Linked DNA regions of Homo sapiens: region 1 is linked to region 2. The links come from fine-mapping of genetic effects on gene expression. Tissue or cell type: whole blood. Region 2 holds a variant in brackets; the other region holds the start of a gene. All regions are shown on one strand. Distances are between the middles of the regions.

Region 1 (4,241 bases), 68 kb before region 2:
CGCCGCCTGAGCAGCTGGGCTTGGTCCCTGGCAGCAGGCATCTGGGGCATGTAGCTGCCTCTTCAGCTGTCCTGCCAACAGAAGAAACTTACCTCCCATCATCTCCCTGAGTGCCTGCCTCAGCCGCCTTGTATGTATTCATTGCTGTGTCTATAATAAATCAGCGGGTCCTTGCTGGAAGCTTGGACGTTTCAATGGAGAGCTTTCCAGTAAGTGGTGCTTCTGGTTCTTTCCTTCCTGCCTAACCCTTGTCAAATTTCTTTACCATGAAAAGCAGTTCCATATTTGCTAAGGCTTTTAATTTCTTTTCCAAAAAATCTATTTTTGGCCAGACGTGGTGGCTCATGCCTGTAATCCCAGCACTTTGGGAGGCCAAGGCAGGCGGATTACAAAGTCAGGAGATAGAGACCATCCTGGTCAACATAGTGAAACCCCGTCTCTACTAAAAACACAAAAATTAGCTGATTGTGGTGGCGCGTGTCCGTAGTCCCAGCTACTTGGGAGGCTGAGGCAGGAGAATCACTTGCACCTGGGAGGCGGAGGTTGCAGTGAGCCGAGATTGTGCCACTGCACTCCAACCCGGGCAACAGAGCAAGACTCTGTCTCAAAAAAAAAAAAAAAAAAATCTATTTTTTTGGCTTCTTTACCTATATAATCTTCCTGTCTTCTCCAACTCTAGCCTTCTATGTAAGTCTGTAATATCAGGCAGGCTTAACAGTTAGATGAAATCTAGGATTTTCTTGGAAAGGATGTTAGAAAATGAGATTCAGAGTGGCTGTAGGAGGTTACAGAGAGGCAGCAAGAGAGAAAAGGAGACCTTGCAAAGAGAAATCAGGTGGAAGAAGGGCCATAGGAAATTCAGGAATTTCTGAATGGGGCATTTTAGCAAAAAATGAATGAAAAGTCAATGTCATATGAATCAGGGTGTTGCGAACATTAACATATCTGAAAATTGACTTTTGAAATATGTCTCCTCAACACTTGGAAGCTGACATTTCTTCTGCATGACATGCTTGTCAGTTTTATTTTCAAATATCAAAGACTATTTATACAATCAAAATGTCCTTTCACATAAAATTTTTATAGTTTTGCCTGAAAATTTGTGGTCAATTTATTTCTTGCACAGTCAAAGCGGTCAACTGCATAAATCATTACTCCTTCATTGCAAGCCCCTTAACAGTTTAATCCAGAACCATCACTTATGTCAAGGTTCTAATACCATTTGTTTCTGGATTTTGCTTGTTTTCTCTTCATCTATTTGAGATCAGTGAAGAGCTTACACAGAAGTTAGAAAAACAACAAGAATAATTGCTGTTCAAGGTGAGTGGATTAGTGAGTGAACCAATCTAGGTGGTCCAAATGCTTCTATCGCCTCCTTGCCTGGGCTCTGATTACATCTCACTCAGTGTGATGTCTGTCATCCCTGGACAGAGCTGTCTTAACAGTGAATACATCTTTACCTAGCATCTCTCTTTCTAAGAACCCCACTAGGACCACTCTTTGGAAAAATGTGGTCAAGGCCACATCTGGGTGCCTGTGGTAAGCTGGCTAGTCATCCTCGCCCACCACAGATGCTAGCTGCCTTAGCACGCCCAGATGTATAGGTAAGAACCAAGCAACCAAATCATCTTTCTGCATCAAAGTAGCCAAAACTTTTTTGTTGAACCCAGTGATACTTTGTTCAAATTGGTCAAGAATAGAATTGAGTGGTTCAGCATTAAATTTTCCAATTAGTGTTCTGCTTATCATCCCTAAATAACACATCTCATAGGAGTGAAAAGCAAAAAACAAAAAATTTATCTCATCTTTTGGTGTCAACTAGTTTCAATATAATTGTATTCAGTCCCCACTTATCTCGTTTTCCTTAACTAGTTGTTCTTTGATTTCAAATCTGCTGTTCTCCCAGTGGGAAGATCACCTCTTCCACATGTGGAAGAAAACACAGGTTCCTTGGGTTCCCAAGAAGCTGTTCACAAAGCCTCTGCTTATTTACAAAGCAAGATCGATGCTGTCCTACCTGAGCTCATTTTCAACCCTGAACCCTTTCCTGCGGGCCAGCTCCATGAGGAACGCTCTGCGGGTGGTTCCCATTTTCTTCTCCAAAATGAAGACGACCAAATCTTGAAATTTGATGTCTTGAGGAGAGGAGGCCATCAAGGCACCCGTCTGCCGGGGTCTCTTCTTCCGAGGGCTCAAGTGGGACGCTCGTGGTGGATCCATGGGAAGAGGCTGCTGCTGCCTCTGGCTGGCCCATCTGGTGGTGTCTCCAGAAGGGAGGGAGACTGCCACCCTCCTACACGAAGGGTTTTGATGTCATCTCACCAGCAGACTCTGAAGCCAGGCCAGGGCTTCACAGGTGCTGCCCTGGCAACAGCTTCCTGCCAAAGTGTGATGGGGAATTTTTATCTCTGTTCAGTTCATTTGTCCAATATGGAGATCATAATGAAGACAGTCAATTAACTTTTGTTTTCATACGCACAATCTCATTAGCTCCTCAGAGTAACCTCGTGAGGAAGGTAGGGAAGCATCATTGTTTGCATGTTATTTATTTCTAAATGTACTGAGGCCCTTCTGTGGTCTTTATTTATTGATCCCCTTTAAACCTCCCAACTCACTTGCATTCTCCTCCTTTTGTAGACAATCATTACACTGTACTGGATGTCTGTTATTTGCATGGGTGTTATATTCTGCTTGTGGTTGTTTTGACTTTACATAAATGGCATTGTTACATTTCTCATTTTGCCAATCACCTTTTTATTTCACTTGGAACTATGTTTTCCAGATCCGTATTCTAATTGCTCTGTTGCTTCTAACTGCTCCATAGTATTTCATGGTGGGTATTACCACCTGTTCACTTACATAGGTACATTTTATAAGCAAGAGAACCAAGGCTCAGTTATTCAAGATCACAGAATAAGGGGCCAAGCCATATCTTGAATTCAGTTCTTTGGATTCCAAATGCTGTATGCATATATTAGTTTTTTAAGTGGATTAAGGTTGTCCAGAGAGTAGTCTGTTATAAACCCTAAAATAGGTCTTCTTCAGTGGGATGGTATGACTTTTAGATGATAACCACTGCCATAAGGAGACATTTTCATAACTTTATGTGCAAAATTAAATTTGTCTTTCACCAATACACTCTATAGATCTCATTTCCTGAGCAGCTACTACACGGCCAAGGCAAGCACCTACCAGCCTTAGCTGACAGGATCCTCACAATACCACTGTCAGGTGGTCCTACCTTTCTCATTTGGCTAAACAATTTGCCCAAGGTCACAGAGCTACTGAATTTTCACAACTGAGAAATGATTGAGCTAGGATTTGGACTCAGATCTGTCTGATTTTAAAAGACTACTCTTAACCACCAAGGAGCCTTCCTCTGTATTGTCTTCTCCAATAACCAATCTGAGCTCTGCTCACCCTTTGTCCTTTTTTTTTTTTTTGGAGATGGAGTTTCGCTCTTATTGCCCAGGCTAGAGTGCAGTGACACAATCTCAGCTCACTGCAACCTCCACCTCCTGGGTTCAAGCGATCCTGCTACCTCAGCCTCCTGAATAGCTGGGATTACAGGCGCACGCCACCACGCCTGGCTAATTTTTGTATTTTTAGTAGAGATGGGGTTTCACCATGTTGGTCAGGCTGGTCTTGAACTCCTGACCTCAGGTGATCGGCCCACCTCGGCCTCTCAGAGTGCTGGGATTACAGGTGTGAGCCACCATGGCTGGCCGTCTGTGCCATATTATTTGAGACTTTTGCTATCTCCAAAACACGTGAGCACCTCACAACCGTATTAGGGGAAGAGTCATGTGACAGCTGCCTTAAGGCATGGGTAAAGCACTCTGTGTTGCTCAAGAAAGCAAAATCAGAAATCTTCAGGTGGAAATTGTAGAGTAATAGATTCCAGTTCTCCGCAAGTAAGACCTGTTTAGTAACTCAGCTGTCTAAAAATATACAGAGAGCAGCTTTATACAGTTGTGTGTTACAAGTCATGAAAAGTATTCAAACAGATGCTGGATAACTGTTTATTGAGCTGTAACAGAAGGGAATTCAGACATCTGGTAAGGGCCTATAATGCAGCCCTGAAATTCCCGGATGCTATGACTGTTTGCTAGAGATCAACTGGAAGATGAGAGTCTATTTTGACCCTCACTATTATGTGTTTGGTTACTGAAGAGCTGAATGCTTCATGTTAGAATGCAGTCTTAGCTACCAAATGGTGCTGCAGCAGGGAGTTAAGTAAA
Region 2 (4,241 bases):
TATTGCTTTGCCAGATGACTGGGGCCTTGCCCAGTTTCCCCTGCTCTTACACTCAATCCCCGGAAATGGTCCAAAACCACCATCACCACCTGCAGTTAGCATCCTCCCTTGCCGTTCTCTCCCCCACCCCAGTTCACATCCCAGGAGCATTTCCAGCTGCTTCCCCTGAGCCTTGAGGTTTCTGCACAGCTGCACGTCCAGGGCCTCAGAAATCAGCCCTGAGAGCTCCTCCTGAACCTGGGGAGTCTTTAGGATCTTGGAAACTGTAGTGTGTGGAGGCCAGAGCCCACCAGACCTCCTGAGCCTGGGAGGCCAATCACGTGCCCTGTGGAGCACTTGATCCACCAAAGGCTCCTGAAATGCTCCAGCCATTTTCCCCCCACACATTGGATTTATGTCCTCTTTCCAGTTCTGGAAACAAATGGCTTCCCAAAACCCTCTAAGCCAAGAGTGTGTTGACCTTGGTGATGCTGACCTTCAGAGAGCAGAGGATAGAAAGGACCAGCAACTGCCCCACAGGAGGTCAGTAAAAGAGTCACCATACCCTCTTCCCTAGTTAGAGTACAGAAGGACAAAGCTTGAATTACACAAAGAATGGAGAGCTGGGTCTCCTCCAGGGATGCAGGTCAGGCCAGTGTGGAGCCTGCTGCCTTCAGTTCAGACCCAGCAATCCCAGTTCAGTCTTTCCCTGAGGAGGAAACATCGCCCCTAAGGAACTGCTGGCCCACTGGGCAGAATGCATTGCCCCAAGCAGCTGGCATTGCTGTGGGAAGGGAAGATATCCAAAATCTGTTGAGTATTGACTCTGTTCTGGGCATTAAGCTAAGCTCTTCACAGACATATCTCATTTAATCTTCTCATTAGCACCGTTATATAGAAATTACGATCTCGGTTTTGCAGATGAGGAAAATGTGTCTCAAGGACATTAAGTATCCTGTCCAAGGTGACTGCAGCCACTAAGAGGAAAACCCATCCCAGACTCCCATTTTGCAGCTCCTTGCTTTGACCCAAGCTCAAGTGTTCATGCTTTTGGGGGAACTTTTTTCTTATTCTGAAGGCACTAGAGCTCCTGACATTAATGCAAGAACTCGCTTCCCAGTTCCTGAGCTTTCACAGTTGAACAGCCTTCGGTATCTTTGAAGTCTGAGGTCTGGCTGGGGATGGAGGTCAGGGAGAGACCAGTCATGGTGCCCGAGAGTCTGCTGGGATCACTGCAGATGCCCCATTGGTTACCCCACAAGTCCTTGAGGAGTCAGAACTGAACAGAGCCCCTCTCTTGCACTCTTGGGCTCTGATGTCCAGGGCTCTGATGGGGTGGCATCCCTGGGAGGTCCACGTGTGACTCCTCTGGCTCTGCTATCATGCAGGGAGGAGATCAGAGCAAATATAGGGTGGAGGGGTGGCAAACTCACTTACATGGAAAAAAATAAAAATCCAGAGCAAAGAAGGCACTTGGACAGGGATTCTTGGGTAAATGCCCACACAGAAGTATGGGGTATGCATAACAATCCTTTGTCCACTAAAGAAGTGAGATTTAACATTGCTTTTGTCATGGGCCTGGTGCTCCTAGTGGAGCCAGCATTTACCTGGTTTTCTGTCTCCCTGTCCATATTCCCCTGGAGGTACTGGTCTTACGCTGACATGGGAGAGCTATATCCAACATCAGTCCTGCCATAGGGAACTAAGAATAGAGGAATGACACTTGGGCTCAAAGGTATTTTAAAGCTTAGAAATTCCTGAAGGATTGCCCAACCCAAGCTTCTCATTTTAGGAATAACTGGAGACCAGAGAGGCAAAGTGACTCCTGAGGTCATGCAGTGAGGTGATGGCTGAGCCAGGACTATGTCCCCCATTGCTGTACCCCCACCCCTCTGTTAATGATCCTGTGAAGGGATGAGTAGACATACAGACAAAGGGAGTTTCTACGATGATAAGTATTTCTTTTTTCTTTTTTTGAGACGGGGTCTCGCCCTGTCACCCAGGCTGGGGTCCAGGGGTACAATCATGGCTCACTGCAGCCTCAACCTCCTGGGCTCAAGTGATCCTCCTGCTTCAGCCTCCTGAGTAGCTGGGACCACAGGCATGTGCCACCATGCCTGGCTAATTTTCTAAAATCTTTTTTGTAGAGACAATGTCTCACTATGTTGTCCAGGGTGTTCTCAAATTCCCGGCCTCCAGTGATCCTCCTGCCCTGGCCTCCCAAAGTGCTGGGATTACAGGTGTGAGCCCACCATGCCTGGCCTAAGATGTTAAGTATTTAGACTCAGAACACCTCTCTCAGCCAGCCTGAATCTGGGTCTTGTCCTCAGTTCCCCACATTAAATCATGTCCCTTTCTCCTCTTAGGGCGGCACTGGTGGGACTGGCCACCCACCGCCTCCCCTGCAGCCTCTGTAGTTCTGCTTTCTGTTCCTTTTCGGTGTCTGTCCCCACCACCACAACTGGCCCACCCTCCCTCTTTCCTTCCTTCTGTGTCCTGCTGCGGTCTTCCCACTGGCTCCC[T/C]GCATGCCACCACCTGCTCTGTTGGGGGAGAGATGGGCAGGGTCTGGCGGCCGGGTAGCCTCCAGAGCAGGATCAGGGCTGCAGCTGAGGCAGAATGTCAGACATGCTGTGATGCCACCAGCATCTGCCCCAGGGGCTCTGGTGCTCCTATTGACTCAGAACTGAGAGGCTGGATTCATACTCCCTTTGCCCCAGCCACCACCACAGAGTCCTGTACTGTCCTTCCAGCCATCCCTTCCCATTCCCAGACCCCCTGGTCTGGATCAGCTTTCGTCTTTCCATGCCTGAGTTCCTAAACACCAACCTCATCAGCTCCCCATCTCAGCTTGTCACTGGAGCCTGCGGTGTCCACTATGGCTGGAGCCCCCACTGGCCGGCAGCACATCAGATTTGTGTGAGCGCTCAGCAGAATCTCCTGTCCCTCTCCAGCCCAGCGCATTCATTCTGCACACATCTGCCTCTAAGCCCTGCTTCTGGGGCTGACACATAAGCCCCTCTCTCAGATGATGGAGGAAGACACACTCCTTCATCCTTATTCTCTCACCCAAATCCTGCTCATCCTTCAAGGCCCCATTCGGCCCCACCTCGGGCACATGGCCTCATGCAAGTTTTTGGCTGTCACTGGGCACACCTTTCTCTGAACTTTCCCCGCTCCTGGCAATGATTCCAGGTGTGGGGACATTTCTCAGAAAACTACATGGCCCTGAGTTTTCCCAGTCTCATGTGGTCATTCTTCTGGCCCTTAGTCTTTATTTGTATTATGAAGTGTGGCTTGGTGAGAAGACCTTGGACTCTGAGGTCCTTTAGGCCTGGGTTGGAATCCTGGCTTTGCTCCCTAAGCACTGTGTGAACTTGGAACAGTTTTGTAATTTGAGTGAGCCTCCAATTTCTGACCTGGGGATAAGAATACCTATCCTTTAGATTGTTCTGAGAATTGCAGAGACTGTAAATTCATTGTAATAGCTAACATTCATTGAGCCCTTTACTCTATGTCAGATACTCTTCTAAGCACGATTAATAATGTCCATTTTAGCAAAGGGGAAGCTGAGGCCCAGAGGTGAAGCAATTCAGCTAAGATCTCACTCCTAGAAAATGGCAGAATAAGGATTCTAAGTTAGGCAGTCTGACCCCAGAGCTTAAGCCCAAATGTGGGCCGCTGTGGCCATTCTCACATCTCCTTGTGTCTGGTGCTGTGCCCACAGGCTGGGGAGGGCTACATGAATCTTAAAACCTGGGTCAGGCAAAGGGAGGAGTCCCTCTATTGTGTGGCATGGGATTATGACATGGTAAATGGAGCATAAGCCCCAAACCAGGTAAACCACACCATAGGAAAGGCTTTAACTGACAAGAGGGCCCGCCCAGGATCTCAGCTTCCTGGCAGAGACCATGGAATCACACAAACAAAATCAATCCACCTGGCCCACATGAAGCTTGAACTTCTCCCCCAAATTTTACTCACTACAATAGAGGCTTTCTTGGATCCATGCCTTTGTGGTAGCCATAGTGTGTGATTGACGTGGGAGTAAATTAGAATCAGTGGTGTTTTGAGTGTTAATTGAGGCATTCTTTGCAATGCTCAAGATGACGGTAACATTACTAAAGCATTACTGTGTGCCAGGCTTTGCTAAGAGCTTCAGATGTATTTTATTATTTGATTCTCACAAAAATATGATACAGGCACTGTTCTTATCCTTGCTTTACGGGTGAGGAAATGAAGCTTTAAACAATATTAAATTATTG

Evidence for each region. PIP is the estimated chance that this variant, and not a neighbour inherited with it, causes the effect. A credible set is the group of variants that fine-mapping cannot tell apart.
Region 1: it holds the start of DNTT, and the variant in region 2 is the best candidate, but not a certain one, in a credible set for the expression of DNTT in whole blood (TOPMed, PIP 0.80).

What each region holds. Positions count from the first base shown.
Region 1 is chr10:96,302,477-96,306,717 of GRCh38, reverse strand. DNTT (DNA nucleotidylexotransferase) reads right to left here and starts at 2,284. Exons shown (of 11, transcript NM_004088.4): 1 at 2,018-2,284. The coding sequence starts at 2,220.
Region 2 is chr10:96,234,540-96,238,780 of GRCh38, reverse strand. All of the region lies in intron 3 of BLNK (B cell linker), which reads left to right. LOC124902487 (a long non-coding RNA gene) reads left to right here. Exons shown (of 3, transcript XR_007062255.1): 2 at 410-4,241. Among named protein-coding and RNA genes, the nearest start is that of BLNK, 35 kb to the left of the region's middle. RefSeq lists enhancers at 2,274-2,373, 2,043-2,542. The variant T/C (reference allele first, on the strand shown) is at 2,502.